Linked DNA regions of Homo sapiens. The protein of the gene in region 2 interacts with the protein of the main gene of each other region in a pairwise test. Each region holds a gene or a part of one and is shown on either strand. Other genes may lie near its edges.

What was found.
Region 1: the proteins of KCTD4 (region 2) and EFHC1 interact in binary tests that used the Homo sapiens proteins (3 or more experiments, as listed by UniProt).

The regions. Positions count from the first base shown.
Region 1 is NC_000006.12:52,422,453-52,431,105, reverse strand, and holds part of EFHC1 (EF-hand domain-containing protein 1), read right to left. Parts: intron 7,420-8,653; exon of another isoform or gene 7,298-7,419; coding exon of another isoform or gene 7,292-7,297; intron 7,161-7,291; coding exon 6,939-7,160; intron 1-6,938. UniProt on the Homo sapiens protein: Microtubule inner protein (MIP) part of the dynein-decorated doublet microtubules (DMTs) in cilia axoneme, which is required for motile cilia beating.
Region 2 is NC_000013.11:45,197,062-45,205,871, forward strand, and holds the start of KCTD4 (BTB/POZ domain-containing protein KCTD4), read right to left. Parts: upstream 3,985-8,810; 5' UTR 3,763-3,984; intron 1-3,762.

The DNA.
Region 1 (8,653 bases), on a different chromosome or scaffold from region 2:
AAGATTAACCAAGAAAAGAAGAGAGAAAATCCAATAAGCTCAATTAGAAACAAAATGGAAGATATTACAACTGACACCACAGAAATACAAAAGGTCATTCAAGGCTACTATGAACACCTTTACGCACATAAACTAGAAAACTAGAGTAGATAGATAAATTCCTGAAAGATAAAACCCTGCTAGCTTAATTCAGGTAGAATTAGATACCCTGAACAGACCAACAACAAGCAGCAAGACTGAAATAATTAAAAAACTACCAGCAGGAAAAAGTCCAGGACCAGACAGATTCACAGAAGAATTCTACCAGATATTCAAAGAAAAACTGGTACTATTGGCACTATTCTACAAGATAGAGAAAGAGGGAATCCTCCATAAATCATTCTATGAAGGCAGTATCACCCTAATACCAAAACCAGGAAAGGACATAACCAAAAAATAAAACTATAGACTGATATCCCTGATGAACATAGATGCTAAAATCCTTAACAAAATACTAGCTAACCGAATTCAACAACATATGAAAAAGATAATCCACCACGATTAAGTGGTTTTCATACCAGGGATGCAGGGATGATTTAACATACGCAAGTCAATAAATGTGATACACCACATAAACAGAATTAAAAACAAAAATCACACGATCATCTCAATAGATGCAGAAAAAGCAATCAACAAAATCTAGTACCCCTTTCTGATTAAAATTCTCAGCAAAATTGATACAAGGGACATACCTCAATGTAATAAAAGCCATCTATGACAGACCCACAGCCAACATAATGCTGAATGGGGAAAAGTTGAAAGCATTCCCTCTGAGAACTGGGACAACATAAGGATGCCCACTCTCTCCACTCCTCTTCAGCACAGTACTAGAAGAAGTCCTAGGCAGAGCAATCAGACAACAGAAAGAAATAAAGGTCATCCAAATAGGTAAAGAAGTCAAACTGTCACTGTTCACTGATGATATGATTGTTTACCTGGAAAATCCTAAAGACTCCTCCAGAAAGCTCCTAGAACTGATAAAAGAATTCAGCGAAGTTTCTGGATACAAAATTAATATACACATATCAGTAGCTCTTCTTTACACCAACAGCGACCAAGCTGAGAATCAAATCAAGAACTCAACCCCTTTTACAATAGCTGAAAAACAAACAAACAAACAAAAACTTAGAAATATACATAACCAAGGAGGTGAAAGACCTCTACAAGGAAAACTACAAAACACTGCTGAAAGAAATAACAGATGACACAAATAATGAAACAAATAATGGAAACACATTCCATGCTGATAGGGTGGGAATCAACATTGTGAAAATGACCATACTGCCAAAAGCAATCTAAAAATTCAATGCAATTCCCATCAAAATACCACTATCATTCTTCACAGAATTAGAAAAAACAATCCTAAACTTCATATAGAACCTAAAAAGAGCCCGCATAGCCAAAGCAAGAATAAGCAAAAAGAATAAACCTGGAGGCATCACACTACCTGATTTCAAACTATACTATAAGACCATAGTTACCAAAACAGCATGGTACTGGTATAAAAATAGGCACATAGACCAATGGAATAGAACAGAGAGCCCAGAAATAAAGCCAAATACTTACAGCCAACTGATCTTTGACAAAGCAAACAAAAACATAAAGTGAGGAAAGGACACCCTATTCAACAAATTGTGCTGGGATAATTGGCAAGCCACAAGTAGGAGAATAAAACTGGATCCTCATCTCTCACCTTATATAAAAATCAACTCAAGATGGATCAAGGACTTAAATCTAAGACCTGAAACTATAAAAATTCTAGAAAATAACATTGGAAAACCTCTTCTAGACATTGGCTTAGGCAAGGGTTTCATGACCAAGAACCCAAAAGCAAATGCAATAAAAACAAAGATATATAGCTGGGACTTAATTAACCTAAAGAGCTTTTTCACGGCAAAAGGAACAGTCAACAGAGTAAACAGACAACCCACAGAGTGGGAAAAAATCTTCATAATCTATACATCTGACAAAAGATTAATATCCAGAATTTACAATGAACTCAAACAAATTAGCAAGGAAAAACAAAGAAGCCCATCAAAAAGTGGGCTAAGGACATGAATAGACAATTCTCAAAAGAAGATATACAAATGGCCAACAAACATATGAAAAAATGTTCAACATCACTAATGATCAGGGAAATGTAAATCAAAACCACAATGTGATATCATCTTAGTCCTGCAAGAATGGCCATAATCAAAACATCATAAAATATTAGATGTTGGTGTGGATGCAATGAACTGGGAACTGCTGGTGGGAATGTAAACTAGTACAACCACTATGGAAGATTCCTTAAAGAACTAAAAGTGTGAAGATTCCTCAAAGAACTAAAAGTAGAACCACCATTTGATCCAGCAATCCCACTACTGGGTATCTACCCATTGGAAAAGAACTCATCATACAAAAAAGATACTTGTACATGCATGTTTATAGCAGCACAATTTGCAACTGCAAAAATATGGAACCAACCCAAATACCCATCAATCAATAAGTGGACAAAGAAAATGTGATATATATGATGGAATACTATTTAGCCATAAAAAGGAATGAATTAATAGCATTCACAGTGACTTGGATGAGACTGGAGACTATTATTCTAAGTGAAGTAACTCAGGAATAGAAAACCAAACATTGTATGTTCTCACTCATAAGTGGTAGCTAAGGTATGAGGATGCAAAGGCATAAGAATGACACAATGAACTTTGGGGACTCAGGGGGAAAGGGTGGGAAGGGGGTGAGGGATAAAAGACTACAAATTGGGGGCACTGTATACTGCCTGGGTGATGGGTGCACCAAAATCTCACAAATCACCACTATAGAACTTACTCATGTAACCAAACACGACCTGTTCCCCAGTAACCTATGGAAATAAAAAAAATTGTTTTTAAAGTAGTGGGATAACATCAGCTTTCCCAGGTAGAATAAGAACTTGATTGTTACGTAGAAAGAAAAGAAAAATTATATTTAAATACTGTGTTTAAAAATATACTTTTCATGGAATTTTATAGCAGGCTGGGCTCCTGATTATCATGTATTCTAACCTTCTGAGTTTATAGACGAGGAAATTAGAGATTGTGACTACAAGGTCACAATGTTAGCTGGTAGGAGACCCAGAATTAGAATCCAGGTCTTCTAACTCCCAGGAAGTGCTCAGAATGCCACAATAAACATAAAAATATTTGTATTTACTTCAAGATGAAGGGGGGAAATGCTGCATAAATATTTTCATATCACACACAATTATAAAAAGCCAAGTCACATTTTTAATTTTACATTATTATAAGCATATATGGTACGTGTTTGACTTGCCAATTTTCAGCAGTGACACAGACAAGAAATAAATTTTGTTAATTATTCATGTCATTTTAGAACTGATATTTATTGAGCACTAAATATATAATAAACTATATAAGTCCTTACCTTCATGAAGTATACACTCAGGTGGGACAGATAAACACTAAACAAATCAGCAACACAAATTATAATATAGTGCTGCAAAGGGGAAAAAAAAAAAAGAGAGGGAAGTGATATAGAAAAATGAGGAGGAACTGCCATAGCAGAGTGGCCAGGAAAAGCCTCACTGAAAGGAAAGATGGAGTCAGCCACTTAAGGATGGTGGGGAAGCTATTTCAGATAGGAGAAATGCCATGTACAAAAAGGCCCTGAATTGGAATTTTCAAATGCTGCCATTTCAAGGAAATCAGTAAAAATAAATCCAATGTATTGAAACATGATAGGTGAGAAAAAGGACCCAAGATGAGGCTGGGGAGAGAGCAGGGAGGGCCAGCTCCAGTAGGGCTGTGAGGAACCTGTAGAGTTGGATCTTTATAGATGATAGGGAAGCCATGGAAGTGTTTCAGTCAGTATGTGACATAATCTGATTTTCAAAAAATAAGCCTGGCTGCTCTGTGGAAAATAAATTTATGGTAATAGTGAGGATGAAAATAAGTAAATGAATTAGTTACATATTTTAGAAGCAGAAACAATAGAACTTGCTAATAGATTAGATGTGGATTGTGAGGGGAAAGAAGAATGAAAGATGACTTTCATGTCACAGTGAGGTGAATGGTGGTAATGTTTACTGTATTGGTTAAGAAAGCCTGATGGCATTTTCCCAGAAAAATGACATAATCAGAGCTGAACTCTAGAGAATAAACAAGGCAGCATACCTGTTATAAGCATAAGGACTAGGAATGAGACTAAAACAACAGTTAGGTAGTCATTTGGCTTGTCTGAACTATGATAGTGGCAGAGGAAATGAAAGTGAGAGATATTTGACTTGGCAACTCATTAAGTGTGGAGGATAAAGGAGAGAAAAAGCCAAAGATGGCTCAGGTTTCAAGCTTGGATTACCTAGTGGAACCACACAGGGAAAGCAGATCTATGGGAAAAGGTGAGGGATAGAGATAAGTTAGAGACATACAGAACTTGAGGTACCAACAGTTCATCCAGGTGAAGATATCCCATGGGCCAGGGGGATACAGATCTGGAGTCTCAATGATGTCAGAGTTGGAACTAAATAGTGACATTCTCTACGGTGAGGTGACGGTTGAAATCACGAAAGTGGGTGAGATCTCAAGAAAATTATATAAAGAATGAGATAGAGCCTTGAAAATACTTGTAAGTTAAGAATTGAAAAGAGGAAGGGAGGCTAAAGAATAAGCAACCACATAGAAAGAAGGAGGAAAATGAGAGTCATGGAGGCAAAAGAAGAGCACAGTTTCAAGAAGGGAGGAAGGGTCAACAGTGTCAGATGGCATAAACAAGCCAAAGACAATGCTGGCAAAGTAAACCTCTCTAGATCTGGTAAAAGGACAGCACTGGCTACCTAGGAGAAAGTATTCTGGGGCTGTGGGTAGGGAGAAGTCAGATTGTAAGTGATTTGACAGTCAAGTGAGAAACAAAGTTATCTTGCTTAAAGGCATCACAAGGTATTATAGAAAGAGGACAGGATGATATGACTCTAGCTAGAGAAGCAGTCACTAGAGTGTCTGAAATAGAAATAATATGAAACTTGAAGATGAAAAAGATGAAAGAAGAACATCAGAAATAAAGAGCTGGAAGTCAGTCTGGGAAACACAATATAGTAGGTGATGCTGGAATTATACAGGAGCAAGGGGAAAAGATGAGGGCACTTGGAATAGATGTCCTGGTCTTTATTACCTAAGTAAGAAATGAAGTTATATTCTGTCTATGAGGAACAGTCCTAAGAATTTCCAAAATATAGACAAATATGTTGGCTATTATGTGGACCTCTGGGTATTAGAGGTCCTTCATTTAAAATTAGAACCTTCATTTAATTCAGAGAAACCATAATTCCCTTATTATAAACAAACAAACTTAGTTTCAAAGTCATGCATTTAGCTTCTCTCTACCCCATTATCTATGCTAAGGCTCATTTATCTAGAAATTGTGATGATCCAAGTAAAATGAATTGGAAAATAAAAATAATATTTTTATGTGCACTATCCTTAAAGAAATGAATTATGAATATTAAATAAGTACAAATTAAGTAACAACAATTAGTGTAAAATAACATAGAAAACAAAAAATAGGAAGCCTATTTCCTACTCAAGCGCAATTTCTCCTCTGAATTTTACTAATACTTTCTTACGACATATATCACTTTATCACCTTCTACTTTATAACAGTTACTTACTATTCTTTTCAGTAAAAATTAAACATACCAGGATTCATATCTTGGTAATTATTTAGTGCCTATCCCACTTCTCTCTTGTATTTTCAGCCCTCTCCCTTCTCTGCTGATTTTGCAATGTCTGTCAAAGCCACAAATAAACAAAAGAAACAAGCAAAAGGAAAAGATACATCCAATTATATAAATCATACTGTTTAGTGGATGTTTAGGTTCGGCCTATGAATGCATATGTGAATGTGTCCCTATAAATGAGTTAAGTGGGGAAGAGGAAATGATACAGATTCTAGTTGAGAGACTGAAATTGTTTAAAAATAAGTGACTATCATGTAAATGGCATAGCTCCTCCCCAGCCTCTAGCTTACAACAGGTACTCAATAAAAGTTGGCTGGCTGGATGAAAATGTTATAGACATTTAACAGGAATAATAAAATAAAAATTAAGACAAGAAAAGAAACAGACTAAGAGTAAATTAAGAAAGCTAACTTATCAAAACTGATCAGTACTTCTCAGAACCAGTTACACATAAAGCTCATCTGGAAATTAGAACTGATGAGGGTTGGAATAACGTAACTTTCTTAAAAATCTCGCCAGTGATTCTGCTACATGGTCAGGGCTAGGGCTACTTCACTTTAGTGAAAAGAGGAGGCTCATTGACAAGGAAAAACAAGAATGATGTGGTAATGTCAATAGATGGAAATGAGGAAACTCACATTGCAAAAACATAAAGATAAATGAGAAACAAACAAAAATGTTATACCACCCATTGGTTATGTAATATCAAACATGAAATGTTCCCTGAAAACCAAAAACTTATGGAGACTGCCTTGCAGAAAACTGACAATAGATGGAGTCATTGTTTTCATAATGATATTCTGCATCTCATGAAGATTAGATATGTCACCATTACAGAATACAGTTACCTTTAAAAAGTGGAGAACACACGGCTGATAAACATAGAATATAAATTCAAGAATTCAGAATTATAGCCAACTTTTCTTTAACTGCATTTGGAAAATAGTCTGGTGAAGTCTACAGGGAACTACTTTACTCCCTGTAATCAGCTTCCTGACTAAAGAAAGCCTCTTTTTAGCCTGAGTTCAGCTGTCCATGACTAAGGGTTAAGGCATCTGAACAATTTTCTCCTCAGAGCCCTTTGGAAATTCTGTGGTTTACTGTTTTAACTTTTTTGCAAGCAGTTGGCTCTCAGACCCTAATTCAAGGGGTACCCTAAAATTCCAGATGATACCTTTTTGTCAAAGGCCACATGCGCAGGAATAAAATCCGCAGGTGGGGCTTGTTTAGGTTGGCCATAAGTTAAGACTGGTGCCTTACTGGCCAACTCATCCAGCTCAGCCTGGGACAGCTGGTTGAACTGGAGCCGGTCTCCGCCTATCCCAACTGTTGGACGTCGAACAATTGCATAGCCGTTCCTGTAGCTCAGCGTCTGACTTCTGTGGAAGGCTGTTTTCTGAAGAAGAAAAGAATGTGTCATTAATAACATTAGACAAATATTTGTTAGGTAAAAAAAAAACTAACTTTTAAAAATATAACTTGAATCTTTGCTTATAAGCATCACAAAACTTACATCAAGAAGCTTACCAACATTAAGGCTGGGCATGGTGGCTCGTGCCTATAATCCCAGAACTCTGGGAGGCTGAAGAGGGAGAATCACTTCAGCCCCAGAGTTCGAGACCAGCCTGGGCAACAAGATGCTGTCTCTACAAAAACTAAAAAAAAAAAAAAAAAAAAAAAAAAATTAGCTGGGTGTGGTGGCTTGTGCCTATTATAGTCGGCTGAGGTGGAAGGATCACTTGAGCCTGGGAGGTCCAAGCTGCAATAAGCTATGATTGAACCACTGCACTCCAGCCTGGGCAACAGTGAGACTCTGTCTCAAAAAAACAAAACAAAACAAAAGCTTACCTACATTAAAAGATTCTGTATTTTAAGTTAAAACACTTGAACAAGAACAAGGAGCGAAGTAGCCACCTAAGCTTAAAGTAAAATTTAAAGCTGTGCTCTGTAATGCCCAATTTAACTACCAATTCACCTTGCATGAGAGATTAAAAGAGTATCTCATCTATACTCTTAAGTTTTTCACTAGTCTTCTCATGTTTTTCATCTGATATCTGGGGCCGTAAAAACTGTAGAACCTAGAAGATACGGTTCTGTGAATTTTATTTTTACATGGAATGAATTTATTTTTACCTGTCCCTCTTGTCACAATGACAGTGATACATTCTTACAACTCTTTGGAAAGCAACTGGATGGTATATATTTAAAGTCTTGAACTCAATAATTCTACCCCGACCATTTATTTACGAATATGATTCAGAATTATGAGAAAGAACTATATGCCTGAAGCTGCCCATTACAATGGTAAATGTTGAAGACAATCTAAAAGACAGTCATATGAAGACATGAGTAAATGATCGAAAACTCACTCAATGGATTATGGTGCTGTCATTAAAATATTGATTTTAGAGATCACGTGGCAACCTGGTGAAAATATTTATGATTTAATAAGCCTGAAAAAGCAACATATAAAATTATATGTGTACTGCAATTATAAGCATGGAAATATGTGCATGAAGAGACTGGTTTGGTCCTCTGTATTATACATTTCTAAATTATGTTGATTTTTTACAATGAACACATTTTTATTTAAAAGATTAAATAAAAAAGAGTAGAAAGGCAAATTAGAGGTTATGTTAATGGTTTCCTTTTTCTGTTGTGAGGATACTTTCACAATTACTTATCTATAATATTCAAATATATACATAGATACAATTTAAGATTAATCATAAAAAATATTTTTATGAAAAAAACTTTCTACATCCTAATTGCTTTAGAGCCCAGCCTACCATCTTTCAAGATCTGTACTAACATGAAAGGTACAACAGAATAAACTTCTTTTGCTAAAAGGGTTATAAACTGTATATAACCCATAAAAACAAATGTATG
Region 2 (8,810 bases):
TTCTGCAAAGTTGACATGTGTGATTTCTTTGCCACCCATGGCCTGGCAACAGTAGTATAACTGAAGCTTTGTCTTAGTGCCTGGCTTATACAAATCCATAGGACTTTTGTGTCCTCTTTGGCCCAACTTGCAGACTTAAAGAAGAAAAATGTAGGCCGGGCATGTTGGCTTATGCCTGTAATCCCAGCACTTTGGGAGGCTGAGGCGGGCAGGTCACTTGAGGCCAGGAGTTTGAGACCAGCCTGGCCAGTATAGGGAAATCCTTTGTCTACCAAAAATTAAAAAAAAAAAAAAAAATTAGCTGGGGTGTGTTGGTGTATGTCTGTAGTCCCAGTTACTTGGGAGGCTGAGGCAGGAGAATCGCCTGAGCCCGGGAGGTGGAGGTTGCAGTGAGTGGAGATAGCGCCACTGCACTCCAGTCTGGGCAACACAGTAAGACCCTGTCTCCAAAAAAAAAAAAAAAAAGGCACCCAGTAGGCCCCGCTGTATGCCTAATACTCCATATTACCTCCAGCAAAGCAAGATGACTGTAGTTCATGGAAATTATAGGAGTTCATTGATCATTGCTGCCTGTGGTGGTACACATGCCCCTTAGGAGAAAGCCAGATTATCTCGTTTTAGTCTATTCTAAATTTATATTTACTTGCTAGGGGGTGGCGAGTGGGTGTTGCTTGTCCAAGGTAATATCTGTAAGGTCTCCACAGCCCTAAAACTATAAAAATGGTGCTTCAGTACCTATACCAAGGGAGACATCCCTGGATCATGGGACTATGTTTCTCTGCCTTGCAGATACAAACCGGAACTGCTCAATTTAATGGTTTCAGCAGAAGGGTTTAAACCACACATGTCAAAGATTAGCTTACCTGGATCCACTTGGCCACTAGATTTGAAGATTTTATCTGCCTTTGCAGGCAAAAACATATAAAAATTTGAAAGATTGGGGTCCTGTTTCCTACTCAGTACCTTAACTCTTTATTAGAGTTAGATCACCTCTGTCTTAGACAGCTTTAATCATATATAACCAACTTTGAGAATTTAAACTGGTCCTTAGTATGAGTATATCCTATAGTTAATTGGGTCCAATGCCTAACTAAACTCTGGCAGAACCTTCCACTATGAGGTAATACTAATGTCCTACCATCTGCATAAGGCAGAACTCATTCCAGCAGGAATTCCCATCTTTTTACCAACTCCTTATGGGAAATGAGGTCTTTGTCATCCCGTGATTGATGCAGGACATCATTGTAATATATACACTTGCTCCATTTATATGCCAGAGATACTCCCATGCCATGGAAGGAAGTGAAACCTTACCAGGAGGTTATCCCTCCCGACTGGAAGATACAAAAAGTATGATAATTCTCCTAGACTTAACAGATCATTCCTCTATAAAATTCAGACACTCTTCAAGGAAAAGGAATGGTTTTAGAAGCTGCGTTTGATAAGAACAGGGAGCTTCTGTCTCCACATTCTCCCCTGCTATCAAATCTTGGTTGTTGTCAGCTGCATGCTTCTCTGCTTGTCTTTTAAAAGGATTTCATTCCCATTACCTTAGAAAGAAAGTAAAAGCTAGAGAAGCTGCTGTCAACTTTTTACTTAAATCTGACAGTATATCTCTGCCTTGGACTTGCCCACATTTTTTTTTTGTTTTTTTGTTTATTGATCTGTGTTTTGACCTTCCTCTGCCTTTCACAAGCTGAGTTTCTTTTTTTTTAACATGTACTTGCTTCATTGCCTCTTGTCAATAGCACTGAATGTAAGAAACATTCATTTTGATATTGAGGTATGAATATTTTGTGTTGGCTTCTTTTGTGTGTTAAAAATAAAAATTACACTGTCTAATTATTGACATGTTTTAAGAATCAAGGATTTTCCCATGTTAATGTAATTCTTTTTGAGTGTCCAAATTTTAGTTCTATTTTGAAATATAAAATTTATCTGCTCTAAATGTTGTCTGCTACTGGTATTACACTAACAAAAGTACTATGGCAGCCACTTTATGTAACTGATTGACCACAGCATCTCACAAACTGTGCCAAGTACTTGAACCTTCCTAGGACTAATAGGACGTAACCTCTGGCCACAAGGTCGTGTGAACATGTCATTGCAGTCCAAAGAATACAGCTGTAAATATTTTGCAGTGTTGAACTGCGTCTTCAAGGAAGCCCAGGAAAATTGCCTACATTGGTAAATGTTTTAGCTTCATTTGAGGAGTATAGAAAAACATAAGGCACTATGTGTCAAAAGGAGCACAAATAAAGACAACAGACTAGCTCAGAAGTTCAGGTGAAATTCCATTCCACATTTCTTTGATTTTCACTACAGAGGCAATCTTGACAATTTATAAGTCATATTAATTCATGTTTTACATGTACTTTGGAAAATGAGTATTTCAGGGAAACCTGTGTTTTATAATTTTGTAAGCAGAAGTCATACCTTAAGTTTTTTAAAAATGAAGTTTTTTTTTGAAATATAACCTGTGCGTTATTATTTACTGGAAAATTCTATTGTAACCAGATGAGCATAGCACTTATGTAAGCCATCAAATGAACATTAAAATTATAATATTGTACAGAACTCATTTTTATAGTGCTATTTGGCAAAATGCAATTTTACTTTCTCTTTGGGAAGAAGATATTTTAAGCTAATAACCATTATCTACAATCTCAAAATGAAGGGCATAACTTTGAAAACTCTTGTAAAGGTAGTACAGTTAGGAAGTAAATGACTAAAGAGGGTCTCTGTTACCGTATACTAGCGCCTGCCACTGTTCCTTCTGATTTTCTCATCACTTAACATCTGCTTGTGTCTTCAGTGATGAGGTGGTGTGGAGAAGAGAGAAGAGGATCTGAACAGGAGAACAGGATGTGATGGCTCAAGGGAGCAAATGTGGTTTCTTACAGAGTAGGGAGGAGTTATAAACTAGGGATGGAGAACTCTATCATATCACACATTTTTTTCATATTTACCATTTCTATAACTGAGGTACATCTTAATATCGTTAGCTTGTCAAAGTTTAGCAGCAGTATTTTGTCTTGGTGGCACGTAAAATAATGGTTGCTATTACAAATGATAGCATCTTATAGTTGATGAAATATTTGAGCAGCTCTGTGAGCTATTCCCTCCGTATCACAAGAAAGTAAAATTAACAGACAGGGAGGAGGGAAAGAATTTTGCAGGGAGATGAGAGAGAGAGGGAGAGACAAAACAATGTGGCTGCTTGATGTTAAAATTAGGCAAATTATTTTATAACTTTTATAAAATTAAATTTTATTTTTTGATACAGGGTCTTGCTCTGTCACCCAGGCTGGAGTGTATTGCAACCTCAACCTCCTGGGCTCAGGTGATCTTCCTGCCTTAGGAAACTCCCGTATAGTTGGGGCCACAGGCATACCCCACCATACCTGGCTAACTTTTTTATCTTTTTGTGGAGACTGGGTCTCACTTTGTTGCCCAGGCTGGGCTCAAGCTATGCTGCTGCCTCAGCCTCCCAAAGTGTTGGGATTACAGATGTGAGCCACCATGCGTGGCAAAATTCCTGAAGATCAAATAGAGATCAGAATATTACTTCACAAGTAAAGAGCAGCTTTTTAATAATACAGGGATAGAAAGTTTGCCTAACTGGTTTGTTAAGATGCTAGTACCTTTTATTAGTAGACCTCAACTCAGAACCACAGGCAAAAAAACTTCTAGGAACATATTTTAAATGAGAAGAAAGGAGACTACTAGGAATATTAAAAATGGTTTGCCTTTTAAATGTACCTGCTTCTTGAAAAGATTATTTCTTCAGTCTTTTCCCAGAGAGTGTCGACACAGGTGTGATGTAATTAAGAGTCAGGAGAGTAAGGAGAGTAACTTCGAGGTCTGGAGGATCAGCCTGAAATGTTGGTCAGTAGTCCTCTGGTCTGGGTTTTTACAGGAGCTGGAAGTTCTCTTAAAGGCCTCCACATTCAGCTGGATCCAGAAGGTCTTGTGGAAATGAATGAGTGTAACTTCCTGATGCCTAAGACTTCCTAACATACTTGATTTCATTACTTACATGCCAATGCTAATAAGCAGTGTTGCTGCTTGCTTATTCCTTTAACTTCTTCAAACTAGGGATGCCCTTAACTTTTTAAAAAAAGTGCCAGTATCATTTCTCCTCAGTTCTTTGACATAGAGTGTATGTCAAGTTCAGATATAGGGCAGGATAATCCAGCATAGAGCACAAATTTAAATATTTTCAAGCCTTGGGCAGCTTCTTAACATTTTGTTATTCTCTTTCTATTCAAAGAAAATTTAATTATATCTAGGTCTTTTGGAAAGTACTAGAGCAAACAAAATAACACTAATGAAATAATAAAACATCCCCAGTTGGAGAGGAAGGCTAGCATTTTTATTTAGTGAAAGAGACCTAGAAGAGATCTCAGACATTCTAGTAATATCATTATTATGGATGCTGAGGCCCAGAGATGTAAAATAACTTCTCCAAAGTAACACTGCTGTTTAGTGACAGAATCTTAACTAGAAGCCTTCAGTTCTTTTTATAGGATGTGCTTTATATACATAACCTTTAAAATTTTCTCTCGAGTTTTTTCTGATTTTAGGTGGTGGGATATACATAAATTACCATCATCAAAGATGTGTGTTCATACTCAATAAGATTCTTTTGGTTGCAAGTAGCAGAAACCAGTCAACAAACCAATCTAGCCAAAAAAGGAGTGCGGGGGAGAATTTAGAAAGAATCCCATACTATTTCCCAGAATCCAAAGAAGAGCAAATGGCCAAGGAAAAGATATGAATTGAGCCATTCCAAAGCCTTTGGTAGGATGAGTTTGTGTGGCTTCTCTGCAGAGTGCTGGCAAGACCATGTCCTTCTAGTAATTGGTGGTGTGAGCCCCTTAGTTGAACATTTCAAGCACAAGAGCGAGCAAGCACAGACACACAGAGGCCATTCCTACCACCTTCAGTACTCTTCCTTCTTACCCCCACCCACCCCAGTCTAAATCCTACCCATTTTTCAAGGTCCAGCACAATCATTGCTTATTCTTCAAAACTCTTCTTGGCCTGGCGTGGTGGCTCACACCTGTAATCCTAGCACTTTGGGAGGCTGAGGTGGGCGGATCACCAGAGGTCAGGAGTTCAAGACCAGCCTGGCCAACATGGCAAAACCCCATCTCCACTAAAAATACAAAAATTAGCCTGGCGCAGTGGCACATACCTGTAATCCCAGCTACCCAGGAGGCAGAGGCAGGAGAATCGCTTGAACCCAGGAGGCGGAGGTTGCGGTGAGCCAAGATCGCGCCACTGCACTCCAGTCTAGGCAACAGAGCGAGACTCCATCTCAAAACAAAACAAAACAAAAAACTCTTCTTGATCTCTAGCTAGACATCTGAGTGGGTGTGTGTGTGTGTGCAAGTACATGTGTGTTTAATCCCAGTACTCTTGTATGTTTCTATTTTATGACCTTTAACATATTCAACTTGACAGAAGAATCCTACAGCACATATGGAATAACCAGTAATTGGTCAGTTACATTAAAAGATGGGAAATCATAAAAATGATATCAATATGCAGTTCCTATCTGCCTTAAACATTTTATCTTAAAACTTATAAATGTACGTTTAGTTGGCTGGGCACGGTGGCTCACGCCTGTAATCCCAGCACTTTGGGAGGCCGAGGTGGGCAGATCACGTGAGGTCAGGGGTTCAAGACCTGCCTGGTTACCATGGTGAAACCCTGGCTGTACTAAAAATACAAAAATTAGCTGGGCATGGTGGCGCACGCCTGTAATCCCAGCACCTCAGGTGGCTGAGGCATGAGAATTGCTTGAACCTGGGAGGCGGAGGTTTCAGTGAGTTGAGATTGCACCACTGTACTCCAGCTACTCCAGCCTGGGTGACAGAGTGAGACATCATCTCAGAAATAAAATAAAATAAAATAAATGTACATTTAGTTGCTGATGTATATGTAAGACAAGGCCTTTGCTTTGAATATAGGATACTGACTGACCATCTGTTTTCTTTGTTTTTCAAAAATTAAACCCATCATTTAGTTTTTCAGTCTCATTCTGTCGCCCAGGCTGGAGTGCAGTGATGTGATCTCAGCTCATTGCAACCTCTACCTACAGAGTTCAAACAATTCTCATGCCTTAGCCTCCCAAATAGCTAGGACTACAGGCATGCACCACCACGCCCACCTTTTTTTTTTTTTTTTGGATTTTTAGTAGAGAGACGGTTTCCTTGTGTTGCCTGGGCTAGTCTCAAACTCCTGGCCTCAAGTGATCTGCCCTCCTCGGCTTCCCAAAGTTCTGGGATTACAGGCGTGAGCCACTGCACCTGGCCCCATGATTTAGTTTAGATTTTCGATTTTGGTTTCTTTGAAAAGGAGCAAGAACTTAGACACTGTGAAACTATCTAAATGCAGACTCTTTCTAGACTCCTGTGCTTCCCTTTCAGTCTCCAGTTGTCTCACCTGTACCTAATTTGACAGTATTGTGTTACAACTTAACTTTATATCATCTTACCAAAGCATTCTACATAGTTTTTATAGAAACACCCCCCAAACTCCCCTCATACTTGCAATTTAATGGGCTTCTGTAATATATAATCAGATTACATAATTATTAAAACTAATATAGACAAGTTCTAGCATCGTTTGAGCAGACGTGTGTGGGAGTACTAGAGATTAACCTATTACCCACTAGTATATAGTGACTGTGGGCATCTGTCGCTATATTTAATAGCAGGCAGTTGAGAGCCTTTGTTAATCTAGAGGTGAGTTAAGTAGAGGTGTATCAAAAGTGCTTCTGGTGTATTAAGATGATTTATGTACCTGTCTTATCCTACGAGACCAGCAGCTCTCGAAATGTGGTCTGGGAACCACTGGGCAGAGGGGTCCCCGAGATCCTTTCAAGGGATCAATGATGTCAAGACCATTTCTATAATAATGCTAATGGCTTTTTTTTATTTTTTCACTCTCATTCTCTAGAAATTTCTTAATTTTAGTTTCTAATATGGTAGATATCAGCAGTTAAAACTTATAAACAGGTTTTTTGGGAGTCTATACATTTTTCCTTTTAAAAACATTTAAATTTAGGTTTTTTAAGCTTATTTTTAATTGACAAGTAAAATTTGTGTATATTTATGGTATATAACGTGATGTTTTGATATATGTATATGTGTGGAATGGCTAAATCAAGCTATTCATATCTATACTTTTTAACTAATACATGCCACAGAACGTTTAAGAAAGTCTACGCTCCTTGAGGGTAGGAGCCGTGTTTCATTTGTTATTCCTGATGTGCTCTTGCATTGTCTTTTACATAGTAGGCACTCAGTAAATAGTTAAGAAATGTGTGAGAATAAAATGAATTATTTTTCAAGTATTTATGGTCTTTTAAACTGGGTCAACAAACTAGCTTTAAGTAAAGGTTTCTATATTAATGAATAGGATCTATAATTAACAGCAGTAATGTGCAAGTGGGTGCTTTTAAATACTTTTAAAATAAAATTTAATACCTTTCCTTTGAAATCTTAAGCAGTATTTTGAAAAAGACAAGAAGTGTGGTTTAGTGGAAAGAATATGAGAATGTGTTCCTATGAGGCTTTAAAAAGAGAGCAGGCAAATCATGCCTAGGGGGCTGCATCAGGAGTAAATTGGCCTTTTAAAAATGTATTTAAGAAGAGAAGGGGAGAAAGGAAGTGAACAGAGATGTCAGGTTACTTAGGAACATCCAGTGGATGGGAAAATTCGTTGCTGATGAAGACTTTTCCATTCACTTTGAGTAGCATTTGGAAGCTATTTTAGGTTTGAAAAGAAGATATGATAGAAAATTATGGTTTGAGAAAGTAAATGTTATTGCTCTGTGTGAGTGACCTTGACTGAAGAATAGTGAGGAGATTGGTGGCCAAGTTGTAATGGGCAGTTGCTGTGGACCTGATTTCTACCCTTGAGCTGTCATATGGAGAAGGTTGATAGCACAAACCTTTAACTGAAAGTTAAATTCAGCCTGTCCACCTGGAGTAGGTACTGCTAAATAAGTGGGGAGCATTCACTTAGTAAAAGGTAGCTATATTAGTCCATTTTCACACTGCTATAAAGAAATGCCTGAGACTGGGTAGTTTATAAAGGAAACAGGTTTAATTGACTCACGGTTCCGCATACCTGAGGAGACCTCAGGAAACTTACATTCATGGTGGAAAGCAAAGGGGAAGCAGGCACCAAGGTGGCAGGAGGGAGAAGTGAGAGCACAGGAAAAAGCTGCCAGTGAGAACTCACTCATTATCACGAGAACAGCATAGGGGGAACTGCCCCATGATCCAGTCACTTCCCTCCCTTGACACGTGGGGATTATAATTTGAGATGAGATTTGGCTGGGGACACAGAGCCAGACCATATCAGTAGCTCTTTTAGTTGCAACATTAATAAACGTGGATATGTGACTAAATTATTTGCAGGGATAGTAGTCTAGATTTATTTTATTTATTTAGTTTTTTGAGACGGAGTCTTGCTCTGTTGCCAGGCTGGAGTGCAGTGGCACTATCTTGGCTCACTGCAACCTTTGCCTCCTGGGTTCAAGCGATTCCCTTGCCTCAGCCTCCTGAGTAGCTGGGACCACAGGTGTGTGCCACCATGCCTGGCTAATTTTTTATATTTTAGTAGAGACAGGGTTTCACCATGTTGGCCAGCATGGTCTCGATCTCCTGACCTCATGATCTGCCTGCCTCGGCCTCCCAAAGTGCTGGGATTATAGCTGTGAGCCACCGTGGCCGACCTAGATTTATTTTTTTAAAGGATTAATTGTCTTCCTTTATTGGACTTTCCTTATG